2 linked regions of the Homo sapiens genome follow. The protein of the gene in region 1 interacts with the protein of each later gene in a pairwise test. Each region holds a gene or a part of one and is shown in the gene's direction. Other genes may lie near its edges.

Region 1 (7,149 bases):
TTTAATTCGCTTTTATGATGAGCGAAGTTAAATTTTTTTTTTTTTTTGAGATGGGAGTTTCACTCTTGTTGTCCAGGCTGGAGTGCAATTGTGCGATCTTGGCTCACTGCAACCTCCACCTCCCAGGCTCAAGGGATTCTCCTGCCTCAGCCTCCCAAGAGCTGGGATTACAGGCATGCACCAACACACCTGGCTAATTTGTATTTTTAGTAGAGATGGGGTTTCACTATGCTGGCCAGGCTGGTTTTGAACTCCTGACCTCAGGTGATCCACCTACTTCGGCCTCCCAAAGTGGTGGGATTATAGGCGTGAGCAACCGCACCCAGCCAGTTAAATATCTTTTAAGAGTCATATATATTCCCTTTTCCATAAACTCTCTGTTCATACTCTTTTTTTTAGACAAAGTCTCACTCTCTCGCCCAGGCTGGAGTGCAGTGGTACCATCTCAGCTCACTGCAACTTCCGCCTCCCAGGTTCAAGCGATTCTCGTGCCTCAGCTTCCCAAATAACGGGAATTACAGGCACATGCCACTTCACCTGGCTCATTTTGTATTTTTAACATGGGTTTCACCATGTTGGCCAGTCTAGTCTCCAACTCCTGACCTCAGATGATCCTCCCTCCTTGGCCTCCCAAAGTTCTGGGATTATAGGTGTGAGCCACCATGCCTTGTTCATATTCTTTATCCATTCCCCTCCCAGATAATTTTGTCCTTTCTTCATTGAATCCAGTAGCTATTTATGATACTCATGTTAGTGATATGAGGTATGATAATAGCTTGGGATATGAGTTACGAATATTTTTTCACAAGTTGTCATTAGATTTTGGCTTTTTGGAAAGCCTTTGGCCATGGTAATTTTTGTTGCCTATTTTCCTTTAAATTTGCAGGAGGCCGGGCACAGTGGCTCACATCAGTAATCCCACACTTTGGGAGGCTGAGGCAGGCAGACCACTTGAGCTCAGGAGTTCAAGACCAGCCTGGGCAACATGGCGAAACCCTGTCTCTATGAAAAATATGAAAAATTAGCCTGGTGTAGTGGCACAAGCCTCTAATCCCATCTACTCTGGGGGCTGAGGTAGAAGGATCGTTTGAGCCCAGCAAGCTCCAGCATGGGTGACAAAGTGAGATCCTGTCTCAAAAAATAAAAAATAAATAAACCTGCAGTATTTTGAATCCTAAGGTAGTCTTGGGTGTGTGTGTGTGTGGTTTCATTGTCCACATTTGAATCTTTGAGCCATTTGAAATTTATTCTCAGGTACAATATAAGGATCAAATTTTTTTTCAATATATTTTCCATTTTTACTGTGCATACACATATATACAATGTATTTTTTAAATGAGCTTTACAATATGTGGTTTTATCACTTGGTTTACAACTAAATACACTGAACATTTTCTCTTCTACAACAGTTAAAAGAATTGCATAGCTTGGAGGAAGCATAATTTATTAAGCAATTTTGTTGGGGACATTGAGGTATAATATTTTTTCTAAAAAGACTTTTTACAAAGGCTGAGGCAGGAGAATCACTTGAACCTGGGAGGCAGAGGTTGCAGTGAGCCGAGATTGCGCCACTGCACTCCAGCCTGGCGACAGAGCGAGACTCCGTCTAAAAATCAATTCTTTTTACAATGCCTTTAGGAAAAAAAGGGGAGTCCTTGTCTTATATATCTTTCATTAGATGATGGAAACTTGCCCTTCCATTTAGCCTTTTAACTTGCTTCTCTACACCCACCTAATCACCAGTTAAATAACCTATTTTATGTTTTCCAACCTCTCTCTCCCATTTGCTTCCTCTTTCTTACCCAGTCTCCCTGCACACATGCAGACAGACTTCCATTCCTTCATCACTCTGGTTCCTCGCCTTAAAGAGGCTGTCTTTCCTTTTAAAGAGACAATGTTAATTGATTTTGATCAACTCTACTCAAAACTGTATCCTAAGGTCCACATTAAGATTAGTCTTTAATAATCTGAAGATATAATTCAGTCGTTTAAAAGAACATATTAAGAAGACCTTGGTAGAATTACATGTATCAATAAACACGAGGCCTTGAGCAGTTGCTCACGCCTGTAATCCCAGCACTTTGAGAGGCTAAGGCAGGCAGATCACAAGGTCAGGAGTTTAAGACCAACCTCGCCAATATGGTGAAATTCGGTCTCTACTAAAAATACAAAAAAGTTAGTCGTGCATGGTGGCACATGCCTGTAATCCCAGCTACTGGGGAGGCTGAGGCAGGAGAATTGCTTGAACCCAGGAGGCAGAGGTTGCAGTGAGCTGAGATCGTGCCACTGCACTCCAGCCTGGGTGACAGAGCGAGACTCCATCTCAAAAAAAGAAAGAAACACTGGACTTGGGTGCAGTGGAGATATGGCTGACTTTCTTTTGAAAAAAGAAGTCGTTTTTTGGGAGAGGGCAGGGCAAAGAAGTAAGAAGTTGTTGATACTGTAAGGAAATGTTAGAGACCATTTTGGAAATATACTCATTATTTTAAGTAAACTAACAAATGATCATCTTTCATTGTAGCAGCAGCTTTTACTGGTCATGAAATTTGCATGATATCTAAAATGGTATTTCTGGAAATAGGTCAGTGTCAATTAATAGTAACTTTGTATAGAAAGGCAGATGCCAGCTAGCATAAAAGTGGTACATGCAGACGGTGGTAGTTCTGGAGTCCTGGAAGCCATGAGATGCTCATCCATCACAAGGCCATCACAGCCAGTAAAATGCCTGAGGAAAGCAGCAGAGCTGGCCGTGCCAGCATTTACACAGGGAACACTTCTTGGGCAGCCAGGTGTCATGGAGCACAGACCCACAGTTCTCTTTGCACACATCGTGCTCACAGTTCCATCCATAGAAGGACGGGGGGCAGGCACAAAAGGACCCCAATGCAGGTTCCCCCATTCAGGCAGCAGGTTCTGCTTAGCTCCTTACTGTCCTGTATCCCCATGGGCAGCACACGCTGGGAAGACTGAGGCCGAATTGCAGGCTCCTCCTGGGGCCGAATGCTGTCATTTCTGAAGGCCAGGTCTCCCTGAGATGGACACGCAAGTTCCTGATGACCCAGCCCAGCAACTAATCCCAGTTCAAAGGCTTCAAAATGGCCATGATCCAAATCACACTGGAAGAGAAGCAGGCCATCTTCCTGCAGTCCATAGCTCTGTTGTTGTCCCCTTGAAGTTACCTTCCAGAGAAGTCCTTTCTTTTGTCTTCTGTGGAATATCACAAATGTGCTTTTTGAAGCATATATGTCACATGTAGGAGAACTCCATCTCTCCAAGAGAACTGTAGAAACAAAGTAAGGTACACGTGAGTCAGAATGATTTCCAACCCAATCAGCTCCCAGACACGACCTGTGATAGGTCAGAATTTTTAGATGGATCCTCCTGAAGTTCAATTGCCAGCAACTCTCATATTTGGATTCCAGCTAAATTCAAAGGATTTTTTTTCGAGACAGGGTCTTGCTCTGTCATACAGGGCTGGAGTGCAGTGGTGCAATCATAGCTCACTGCACAGTCCACCTACCAAGCTCAAGTCATCCTCCCACCTCAGCCTCCTGAATAGCTGAGACTACAGGTGCACATGCCACCATGCCTGCCTAATTTTTTTTTTCTGTAGGGACAGGGGTCTCACTATGTTGCCCAGGCTGGTCTCAAACTCATGGGCTCAAGCGATCCTCCCACCTTTGCCTCCCAACTTGCTGGGATTACAGGCATGAGCCACTACACCCAGCCACAGCTGACTGATTTTAAATGGAACATAGACTTTCACGTTTTGGGTTATCATCAGGATCAGAGCTAGCCACACAGAAAGGCTAACCATATCATTAGAGAGTTGGGGCTTGGAGCCATGTGATATCAGGTAGGAGGCTGGAGATTGACTTCAACAAAATGGACGATGGTTTAATCAAGCATGCCTAGGTAGTAAAACCCCAGTAAAAACTCTGGACACCAAAGCCTGGGTGAGAGTCCTATGTTAGCACTACCCCCACACTTATTGCCACACATGGACGACAAAGGGTAACACATCCCTAGGAACACAGGAACTTCACATTTGGAACCCTCCCCATCCCAGATTGTGCCTTATACATCTCTTCTAATCTGTGTCCTTTGCCTGTAATAAGCATGACTGTGAATATAACAGATTTCAATGAGCTCTGGGAATTATCAAACCTAAAGGTGGTTTTGGGAAACCCCCAAACTTCCAGTGTCAAAATATTACTTACAGGCCAGGCCGAGTGGCTCAGGCCGGTAATCCCAGCACTTTGGGAGGCCAAGGCAGGATGATCACTTGAGTCCAGGAGTTCGAGACCAGCCTGGGCAACATAGTGAGACCCAATTTCTACAAAAAATAAAAAATCAGCTGGGTGTGGTTGTGTGCACCTGTAGTTCCAGTTACTCCAGAGGCTGAGGCAGGAGGATGGCTTGAGGCTGGGAGGTCAAAGCAGCAGTAACCGAGATCGCACCACTGCACTCCAGCCTAGGCGACAGGGCGAGACCCAGTCTGAAAAAAAAAAAAAAAAGACAGGAGCTGGAAAATGACCGTATAAGGAACTTTACATTAATACTGAAGTGGTTGTAATTTAAGATACCGCGCAGTCCGCAGGTCCTCAGGCGCTCAGAGGACCAGAGGCGGCTACAGACGTAATGGCTACTCAGGACCGCTAGGGAACGCTAGAGGATTGGCCACCGTGCTTACGCATGCGCACACTCTGGCACGCACAGCGTTTACGCGCTCACTGAGACTCGCGCATGCGCAGGTCTCGCATACAGCAGTGCAGTGCCGTTATTCCAGTCTCCGTAGAAACGCTGGGACTATGGCGGAGCCGACTGGGCTGTTGGAGATGTCCGAGCTCCCCGGAGATAGCAGTGTCCCACAGGTGGGCACCGCGAGTGGCGTCAGCGACGTACTGCGGGGGGCAGTCGGCGGCGGGGTTCGGGTGCAGGAGGCTCGGGAAGGCCCAGTGGCCGAAGCTGCGCGGTCCATGGCGCGGATGCCGGGCCCTGTGCCCGGGCCCATCCCCAGCAGCGTCCCGGGCCTGGCCTCCGCGCCAGACCCCCATCAGCAGCTCGCTTTCTTAGAAATTAACCGGCAGCTGTTGTTCCGCGAGTATCTGGATGGTAGCTCCATGATTCCGGTCAGATTACTACGGGATTTCGAGGAACGCCGCAGGCTGTTTGTGGAAGGCTGCAAGGCGAGGGAAGCAGCCTTTGACGCGGATCCCCCGCAGATGGACTTCGCTGCTGTCGCGTTTACGGTAGCGCTGACTGCCTCCGAGGCCCTCAGTCCTCTGGCCGACTGAGTCGGCTGTGATGATGACATTGGTGGCAAGGAATAGCCAAGTGACCCTTTTGGGATCAAAAGAACAGGCAGGCTGTGCCAGTTTAGTTAACTCAGTCATTAGGGGGAATGCAAACTGGAAGGGAATACGGCAATGTGCAATTGAAGGAGGAAGCACACTCCGAAATGGAAACAGACAAGACTGTTGAATCTTGTTTTCTTTCTTCTTTTTTAGTATTATTTAAATAGAGAAGGGAGTCTCGCATCCCTAGGCTGGTCCCGAACGCTTGGACCCGAGCGATCCTCCCGCTTCGGCCTCCCAAAGTGCTGGGATTACTTTACAGGCGTGAGCCACCGCGCCCGGCCGAATCTTGTTTTCAAACAGGTCCCAAGACACTTCTGACTTAGCACTTTGTTAGCAATGCATTTTCCTGCATTTGTGAAGAATCCTTCATGACTTTCACCATAAAGGATGGTTTTGCAAAGATATGAGAAAAAAAAAATGCCAATAACAGAACCCATAGAAATGAACCTAAGTGATGAAAGAAAACAAAGAAATAGAGTTGTCAGGAATCCAGGTGTACCTGAGTTACTAGGATTGGAAGGCTATTGAGAGGACTTTGAAATTTCACAATTTGTGGTCATGTCAACAAATCCTAGTGTAAGATTCATATTTGTGTTTTCTGAGGTACTTTAGATGAACAGTAAATATTCAATAGAAAAAACCACGTATTATATGATCAGTGTTTTCAAGTCTATGTGAAATTGGGTAGGTGTGGAATAAACTTGTTTTTTGTTAATTTTAAGCTTTTTATTTTATTCTAGAATATGTATTCTATTCACAAGACTCAACAAAAAAAAGTATCGGCCGGGCGCACTGGCTTACGCCTGTAATCCCAGCACTTTGGGAGGCCACGGCGGGTGGATCACCTGAGGTCAGGAATTCAAGACCACCCTGGCCAACATGGTGAAACCCCATCTCTACGAAAAATAAAAAATTAACTGGGTGTGGTGGCACGCGCTTGTAGTCCCAGCTACTCGGGAGGCTGAGGCAGGAGAATCACTTGAACCTGGGAGGCGGAGGTTGCAGTAAGCCGAGATCACGCCACTGCACTCCAGCCTGGTCAACAGAGTGGGACTCCGTCTCAAAAAAAAGAAAAAAAGTATCAAAAGATGCTGTGAGAAATCTCTCTTGTTGCTGTCCTTTGCCAAACTCAGAACTATTCCATGCAGGTGCCATTGCTTGTGGCTTGGAGTTTTGTTGTTGTTTTCTTGGTTTTGCTTGTTTTTTGCTTTTTCACTGTACGCCTTTCAGGTTTTCTAATGCATATGCAAATAAACATCAATCTAAATATTGTGCATTTTCCCTTTTAATATCAAGGTAGTTAACTTGCATCACGAGGTATAAATTTTTAAAAATATAAAATCAAGGTAACATATTGTATACCTCTATCAGCATCTTGGGTTTTTTCAGTTATATATGGAGAGATTTATATATCAGGGTTTTTTTTTTCTTTTTTTATATATAGAAACAGAGATGGGGCCTCATTATGTTTTCTAGGCTTGTCTCCAACTCTTGGCTTCAACTGTTCCTCCTGCCTCGGCTTCCCAAAGTACTAAGTGCTGGGCGTGAGCTACTCCACTGGGCGTTTTTTTTTTTACAACTACAATGTAAAGCCTTATCTTAGTATAATGAACTAGACACCTTTTGGACATCTGGGTTGTTTGCAAAATGTTTTAACATTTTCTATGCATTTATACGTGTTTACTCGTTTTCCATAATACACTGTTTTTTTTTTTTCTTTTTGAAACAGAGTCTTGCTCTGTCACCCAGGCTGGAGTGCAGTGGTGCAATCTCAGCTCACTGCAATCTC
Region 2 (6,987 bases), on another chromosome or scaffold:
TGGCTATGAAAGGGTTTTGAAATCCTTGTTTGTACCCTTATAGGATTCTGTCTCCTTTATTTCTGGCAAGAAACTTAGGCACTGCAAAATAACATACAATTTTAATTATAAGACAACATTGGGCCAGGGGATGGACTGTTATATGCATGAGCCAAAGATAGTCTCTATATATTGATTCTGCCAGTACCAAACTCAATTTTTTACACATCAATTGTTTTAAATATAGACCAATAAGTAGATTGTTAGCCATTTAGAGGCTGCCTTCTTTGCATGTCCCTGTGAAACTACAATCATCTGTTAGCTATAGATAGGATAAACTCCAGGAGATAAAAACCCTAACCTACTGCTGCCCTTCAGAGATCTCTGACCCAGCAACTCCCTGTCTTGCTGCTGAGAGACATCGCTACATGTATAAGCCATCTCTTTGATTCCCCTCCCTCTCTCCAGTTAGCTTGTCCTCTCATTTTCTAGGTTGTGACCTCCCACCAGCCTCTGGAAGATCTCAGACTTTGATTAACCCCATGCCCTTGCAAACCTGTCAAAGGGTTGACCAAATGAAACTCGTATGCTTATACACTGTTGGTGGGAATGTAAATTAGTAATAATAAACACTATATATAGTTCAACCACTATAGAAAGCAGTTTGGAGATTTCTCAAAGAACATAAAACACAACTACCATTCAATTCAGTAATCACATTATCGGGCATATATCCAGAAGAAAAGAAATCATTCAACCAAAAAGACACATACACTCATAGTTGTTTGCAGCCTTATTAACAAGAGCAATGACATGGAGTCAACTTAGGTGTCTATCACTGATATTTGCTAAAGAAAATGTGGTACATATATACCATGGAATACAACACAGCCATAAAAACTAATGAAATAATGTCCTTTGCAGCAACATGGATGCAGCTGAAGGCCATTATCCTAAGCGAATTTACACAGAAACAGAAAACCAAATACCATATGTTCTCATTTATAAGTTGGAGCTAAAGATTGGGTACTCATCAACATAAAGGTGGCAAAAACAGACACTGGAGGACTATTAGAAGGGGGAAGAAGAAAGGGGGTCATGGGTTGAAAAACTGTTGAGTATTATGCTCACTACCTGGGTGATGAGATCATCTGTTTTCCAAACCTCAGCATCATGCAATATACCCATATAACAAACCTGTGTATGTATCCCCAGAATCTAAAATAAAAGTTGAAATTCTAAAACAGACAAACAACAAAAACTCATTGTGTGTTACTGAAAACGTGTGGTAGTATATATTTTTCTTGATCAGTCCCCAAATCTCTTGCACTCACTTGTTTCCTATATTTTAATTCTACATATAAATTACACAAAACATATTATTATTATTGTTTTACATTGTCAATATGTCTGTTTACCCACATATTTATCCTTTCTATTACTGTTCGCTTCTTGCATCTCTTCAGTTTCAGAGGAGAACCTTTCAGTATTTCCTCAGTGTGGGTGTACTGGTGATCAATTTACTCAGCACTGATTTCTGAACATGTATTTATTTTGCCTTCATTTTTGATGTACTATTTCAGTAAGTTCAGAATTCCAAATTATCAGCTTACAAATCATTAAATTCCTTAAGTGACAAACTTGTATACAATGTAAGACTCACCTCTTTGCACTTCCCTTTTTTCTGAGATCATTACTCTTGAAGTCCTCATTGCCTTTATAGGTTTCTGATGCTATATTGGTAGCCTTTGTTGCCATAAAAGGGTTTCTTTACCTAAATTTCTGGGGTTTTTTTTCCGCAGGGCTGCTGCAATCAACTATACATTATTAGAAATGGAATTCTTTGATATCATTATAATGACTTACTGGTATTCCATTTTTAGTACCATAATTTCTTCAAATACTCTTTAGTTATTTAACATTCATTTAGTTTTCAGCTCTGTTATACTAGAACAAATTATATAATAAAAGTTATTTTAGCTAAATATTTGCACATATATCTTATTATTTCTTTAGAATATATTTCTAGAGGTAAAAATTTTTAGTTTATAGGTTTGAACAACTTCAGGGTCTTTAAAAATCACTGTACCCTAGGTTAGGAATATCTGTTGCTAAAGCTTAGAAATATCTTAGGTTTTTTTGTGCCTCCCATTCTGAATAGGCCCCAGGCATAAAAACTGCATTGGACTTCACAGAACCGAAACTGGTTATTCATATAAGGGATTGCTTCTCCAATTGGAGACAGAGATGGTGACACATTGTGACTGTAGCCAGTTATTTTCCCTTTCCTAAAGACGTATTAAAAAAAAGTATTGGAACCAACCCAAATGCCCATCAATGACAGACTGGATAAAGAAAACATGGCACATATACACCATGGAATACTATGCAATAAAAAAGGATGAGTTCATGTCCTTTGCAGGGGCATGGATGAAGCTGGAAACCATCATTCTCAGAAAATTAACACAAGAACAGGAAACCAAACACCACACGTTCTCACTCATAAGTGGGAATTGAACAATTACAACACATGGACACAGGGAGGGGAACATCACACACCAGGGCCTGTCAAGAGGTGGGGAGATAGGGGAGGGATAGCATTAGGAGAAATACCTAATGTAGATGATGGGTTGATGGGTGCAGCAAACCACCATGGCACGTGTATACCTAGGTAACAAATCTGCACATTCTGCACATGTACCCCAAAACTTAAAGTATAAAAAAAAAGAAAAAAAGACAAAAGTATACTCCCAGATTTTTGAGAAGATATAAAGAAAGACAACATATAATAAATGTTTGCAGCAAGATATAAACATATCAATAAAGGGTCAATAGTGGTAAGCTGAATTGTAGTGGTTGTGTGAGTGTCAGAAAGTTAGTGTTTTCCCTCTATCTCTCTTCCTCTCTCTCTCTCCCCTACTTCTAAAAACAGCCTGCCCGTCCTCTTCAGTGTTTTCTTTCTTACTCACTGCTGCCGTGCTACTCTCAGTTGGAATGATTTTCTCATCCTTGTCCTTTTGGTAAATATCTACCCACTCATCTTTTTAAACATCTCCTCTTTTATGAAGCCTTTTCTGCATCTACAGGTAGAACTGACCCTGCCATCCCCTGCATTCTTTACAAACTTCTAGAAAATTTAGCTTTACTTTTTCTCTGACTCCCATTTTTACATCGGGTGCTCCTTGATGACAAAGAGATTAACTGTAACTTCGGGATAGATGACCAGTGTTTGTTGAGTGAATGAATAAAGGGATCAGGGTTGGATCTGCTCAAAAGTGCTAGAGTAATAGAGCAAAACAGAGCAGGTAACACATCCCTTAACACTCGGTATCTCAACTGACTTTCACAAAAGCTCTATTAAATGAGCAGGTGATTGTGGAGTGAAAGAATTAAACAAATTTTCAAGAGTTTTAGTGGCTTTCCCACTAAAGCCTGGGTGACTGGGAAAGTTTGGGCTGGGAATGTTGGGCTTTTCAAGCGTGTTCGAAGCTCCCTAATTGGTACTAAATTTCAGGCATTCAGACCCTCTAGGAAAGAGTTCTTTCTAGCTCACAACATTAGGGGAGGAGTTAGACACATAAATGGAGAAAGTGATAGAAGAGACATGGTCAGGGATGGGGGTTCTACCCTTCCAGAGACAATGCACATTTTCTTTGAAACAGCTTCGGGAAAACTGCAAATCTCAATGATATTTACCAATTTTGAGAATCTATTAAGTGCCTGGCACTCTGTGTAGAAGCCCTCCAATCGTACCCTAAATCTGAGAAGTATTTATTATTATTTCCATTTTTACTCCCTAATGCATCTACTCTAAGCTCCTTGCTTCACCCTACCAAAGTTTCCCTTCTGCTAGTGCTCTCCTTTGGTGCAGAACCACCGCATCCACTTTCTCAGGCCCAGGGGAGGGGCGGGGCGGGGCGATTTCGCCTTGCCGCAGAGCCAGTCTGCGCCTGCGCGGACTGCGGCAGAGGGCGGGGTGTGAGAAGCAGAGTACAGTGAGACTAGCATTCACTGCTGGCCAGTGCCTGCCTTTTTCACCACCTCTAATTTCAGCTTCAGCAGTTGCTTGGAACTTTGGTTCTGGCAGCAGCAGCAACATCATTACCGCTAGCGGCAGTTTTGTGCCGAGGCACCTACACACCTCCCGTCCTCTCTGCCAGATCGCGGGCCTGTCGGTGTCTGCTCCTACACGCCAACGCCGGTGGGCAGGACCATGTCTCTGGTAAGCCAGAATTCGCGCCGCCGCCGCCGCCGCGTTGCAAAGGCTACTGCGCACAACAGCAGCTGGGGCGAAATGCAGGCCCCTAATGCCCCCGGTCTCCCCGCTGATGTGCCAGGCTCAGACGTCCCCCAGGGTCCCAGCGATTCCCAGATCCTCCAGGGCCTCTGCGCCTCTGAGGGCCCAAGCACCTCCGTTCTGCCCACCTCCGCTGAGGGCCCAAGCACCTTTGTGCCGCCCACCATCTCTGAGGCCTCAAGCGCCTCCGGGCAGCCCACCATCTCTGAGGGACCTGGCACCTCCGTGCTGCCCACCCCCAGTGAGGGCCTAAGCACCTCCGGGCCTCCCACCATCTCTAAGGGGCTGTGCACCTCTGTGACGCTTGCCGCCTCTGAGGGCCGGAACACCTCCAGGCCGCCCACTTCCTCTGAGGAACCTAGCACCTCCGTGCCGCCCACCGCCTCTGAGGTACCGAGCACCTCCCTGCCGCCCACCCCTGGTGAGGGAACGAGCACCTCCGTGCCGCCCACAGCCTATGAGGGACCAAGCACCTCCGTGGTGCCCACCCCTGATGAGGGACCAAGCACCTCCGTGCTGCCTACACCTGGTGAGGGACCAGGCACCTCCGTGCCGCTCGCCGCCACTGAGGGCCTGAGCACCTCCGTGCAGGCCACTCCTGATGAGGGACCGAGCACCTCCGTGCCGCCCACCGCCACTGAGGGCCTAAGCACCCCCGTGCCACCCACCCGTGATGAGGGACCGAGCACCTCCGTGCCGGCCACTCCTGGTGAGGGACCGAGCACCTCCGTGCTGCCCGCCGCCTCTGACGGACAAAGCATCTCCTTGGTGCCCACCCGCGGTAAGGGATCAAGCACCTCCGTGCCCCCCACCGCCACCGAGGGCCTGAGCACCTCCGTGCAGCCCACTGCTGGTGAGGGATCGAGCACCTCCGTGCCGCCCACCCCTGGTGGGGGACTGAGCACCTCCGTGCCGCCCACCGCCACTGAGGAGTTGAGCACCTCCGTGCCGCCCACTCCCGGTGAGGGACCAAGCACTTCCGTACTGCCAATCCCCGGTGAGGGACTGAGCACCTCTGTGCCGCCCACCGCCTCTGATGGATCGGACACCTCCGTGCCGCCCACTCCTGGTGAGGGCGCAAGCACCTTAGTGCAGCCCACCGCCCCTGACGGACCGGGAAGCTCCGTGCTGCCTAACCCTGGTGAGGGCCCGAGCACATTGTTTAGCTCTAGTGCTTCTGTGGACCGGAACCCCTCCAAGTGTTCCCTTGTTTTGCCAAGCCCTAGGGTAACCAAGGCCTCCGTGGACTCAGATTCTGAGGGTCCTAAGGGTGCAGAAGGCCCTATAGAATTCGAGGTCCTGAGAGACTGTGAGAGCCCCAACTCCATTAGTATTATGGGCCTCAATACTTCCCGGGTTGCAATTACCCTGAAGCCCCAAGACCCTATGGAACAGAACGTAGCTGAGCTGTTGCAGTTCCTGCTGGTGAAGGATCAGAGCAAGTACCCTATCCGGGAGTCTGAAATGCGGGAATATATTGTTAAAGAATATCGCAACCAGTTTCCTGAGATACTCAGGCGAGCAGCAGCCCACCTGGAGTGCATTTTTAGGTTTGAATTGAGAGAACTTGACCCTGAGGCACACACCTACATTCTGTTAAACAAACTGGGACCTGTGCCCTTTGAAGGGTTAGAAGAGAGCCCAAATGGGCCAAAGATGGGCCTCCTGATGATGATTCTAGGCCAAATATTCCTGAATGGCAACCAAGCCAAGGAGGCTGAGATTTGGGAAATGCTCTGGAGGATGGGGGTGCAGCGGGAAAGGAGGCTTTCCATTTTTGGGAACCCAAAGAGACTTCTGTCTGTGGAGTTTGTATGGCAGCGTTACTTAGACTACAGGCCAGTAACTGACTGTAAACCAGTGGAGTATGAGTTTTTCTGGGGCCCAAGATCCCACCTAGAAACCACCAAGATGAAAATTCTGAAGTTCATGGCGAAAATATATAACAAAGATCCTATGGATTGGCCAGAGAAATACAACGAAGCTCTGGAAGAAGATGCTGCCAGAGCCTTTGCTGAGGGTTGGCAGGCTCTCCCTCACTTTAGGAGGCCCTTTTTTGAGGAAGCTGCTGCAGAGGTACCATCCCCTGATTCAGAGGTTTCCAGCTATTCCTCAAAATATGCCCCACATTCATGGCCTGAGTCAAGATTGGAGAGCAAGGCAAGGAAGCTGGTGCAGTTATTTCTGCTTATGGATTCAACTAAGCTGCCTATACCAAAGAAAGGAATTCTGTACTACATTGGCCGAGAGTGCAGCAAAGTGTTCCCTGACCTCCTGAATCGTGCTGCCCGCACCCTGAACCATGTCTATGGGACAGAACTAGTGGTACTTGATCCCAGGAATCACTCCTATACTCTGTACAACCGAAGGGAGATGGAAGAAACTGAGGAGATCGTAGACAGTCCAAACAGGCCTGGCAACAACTTTTTGATGCAGGTCCTAAGCTTCATCTTTATTATGGGCAACCATGCCAGGGAGTCTGCAGTCTGGGCCTTTCTGCGGGGCTTAGGGGTTCAAGCTGGGAGAAAGCATGTGATTACCTGCAGATACTTGAGTCAGCGCTATATAGACAGTTTACGGGTTCCTGACAGTGATCCAGTGCAATATGAGTTTGTATGGGGTCCTAGAGCCCGTTTGGAAACCTCTAAGATGAAAGCCTTGCGATATGTGGCCAGAATCCACAGAAAGGAACCACAGGACTGGCCACAGCA

The links. Proteins that work in one complex are often made in the same cells at the same time.
Region 2: the proteins of EID2B (region 1) and MAGEE1 interact in binary tests that used the Homo sapiens proteins (3 or more experiments, as listed by UniProt).

What each region holds. Positions count from the first base shown.
Region 1 is NC_000019.10:39,530,465-39,537,613, reverse strand, and holds EID2B (EP300-interacting inhibitor of differentiation 2B), read left to right. Parts: upstream 1-4,761; 5' UTR 4,762-4,811; coding exon 4,812-5,297; 3' UTR 5,298-6,627; downstream 6,628-7,149. UniProt on the Homo sapiens protein: Acts as a repressor of MYOD-dependent transcription, glucocorticoid receptor-dependent transcription, and muscle differentiation.
Region 2 is NC_000023.11:76,423,739-76,430,725, forward strand, and holds the start of MAGEE1 (melanoma-associated antigen E1), read left to right. Parts: upstream 1-3,971; 5' UTR 3,972-4,192; coding exon 4,193-6,987. UniProt on the Homo sapiens protein: May enhance ubiquitin ligase activity of RING-type zinc finger-containing E3 ubiquitin-protein ligases. Proposed to act through recruitment and/or stabilization of the Ubl-conjugating enzyme (E2) at the E3:substrate complex.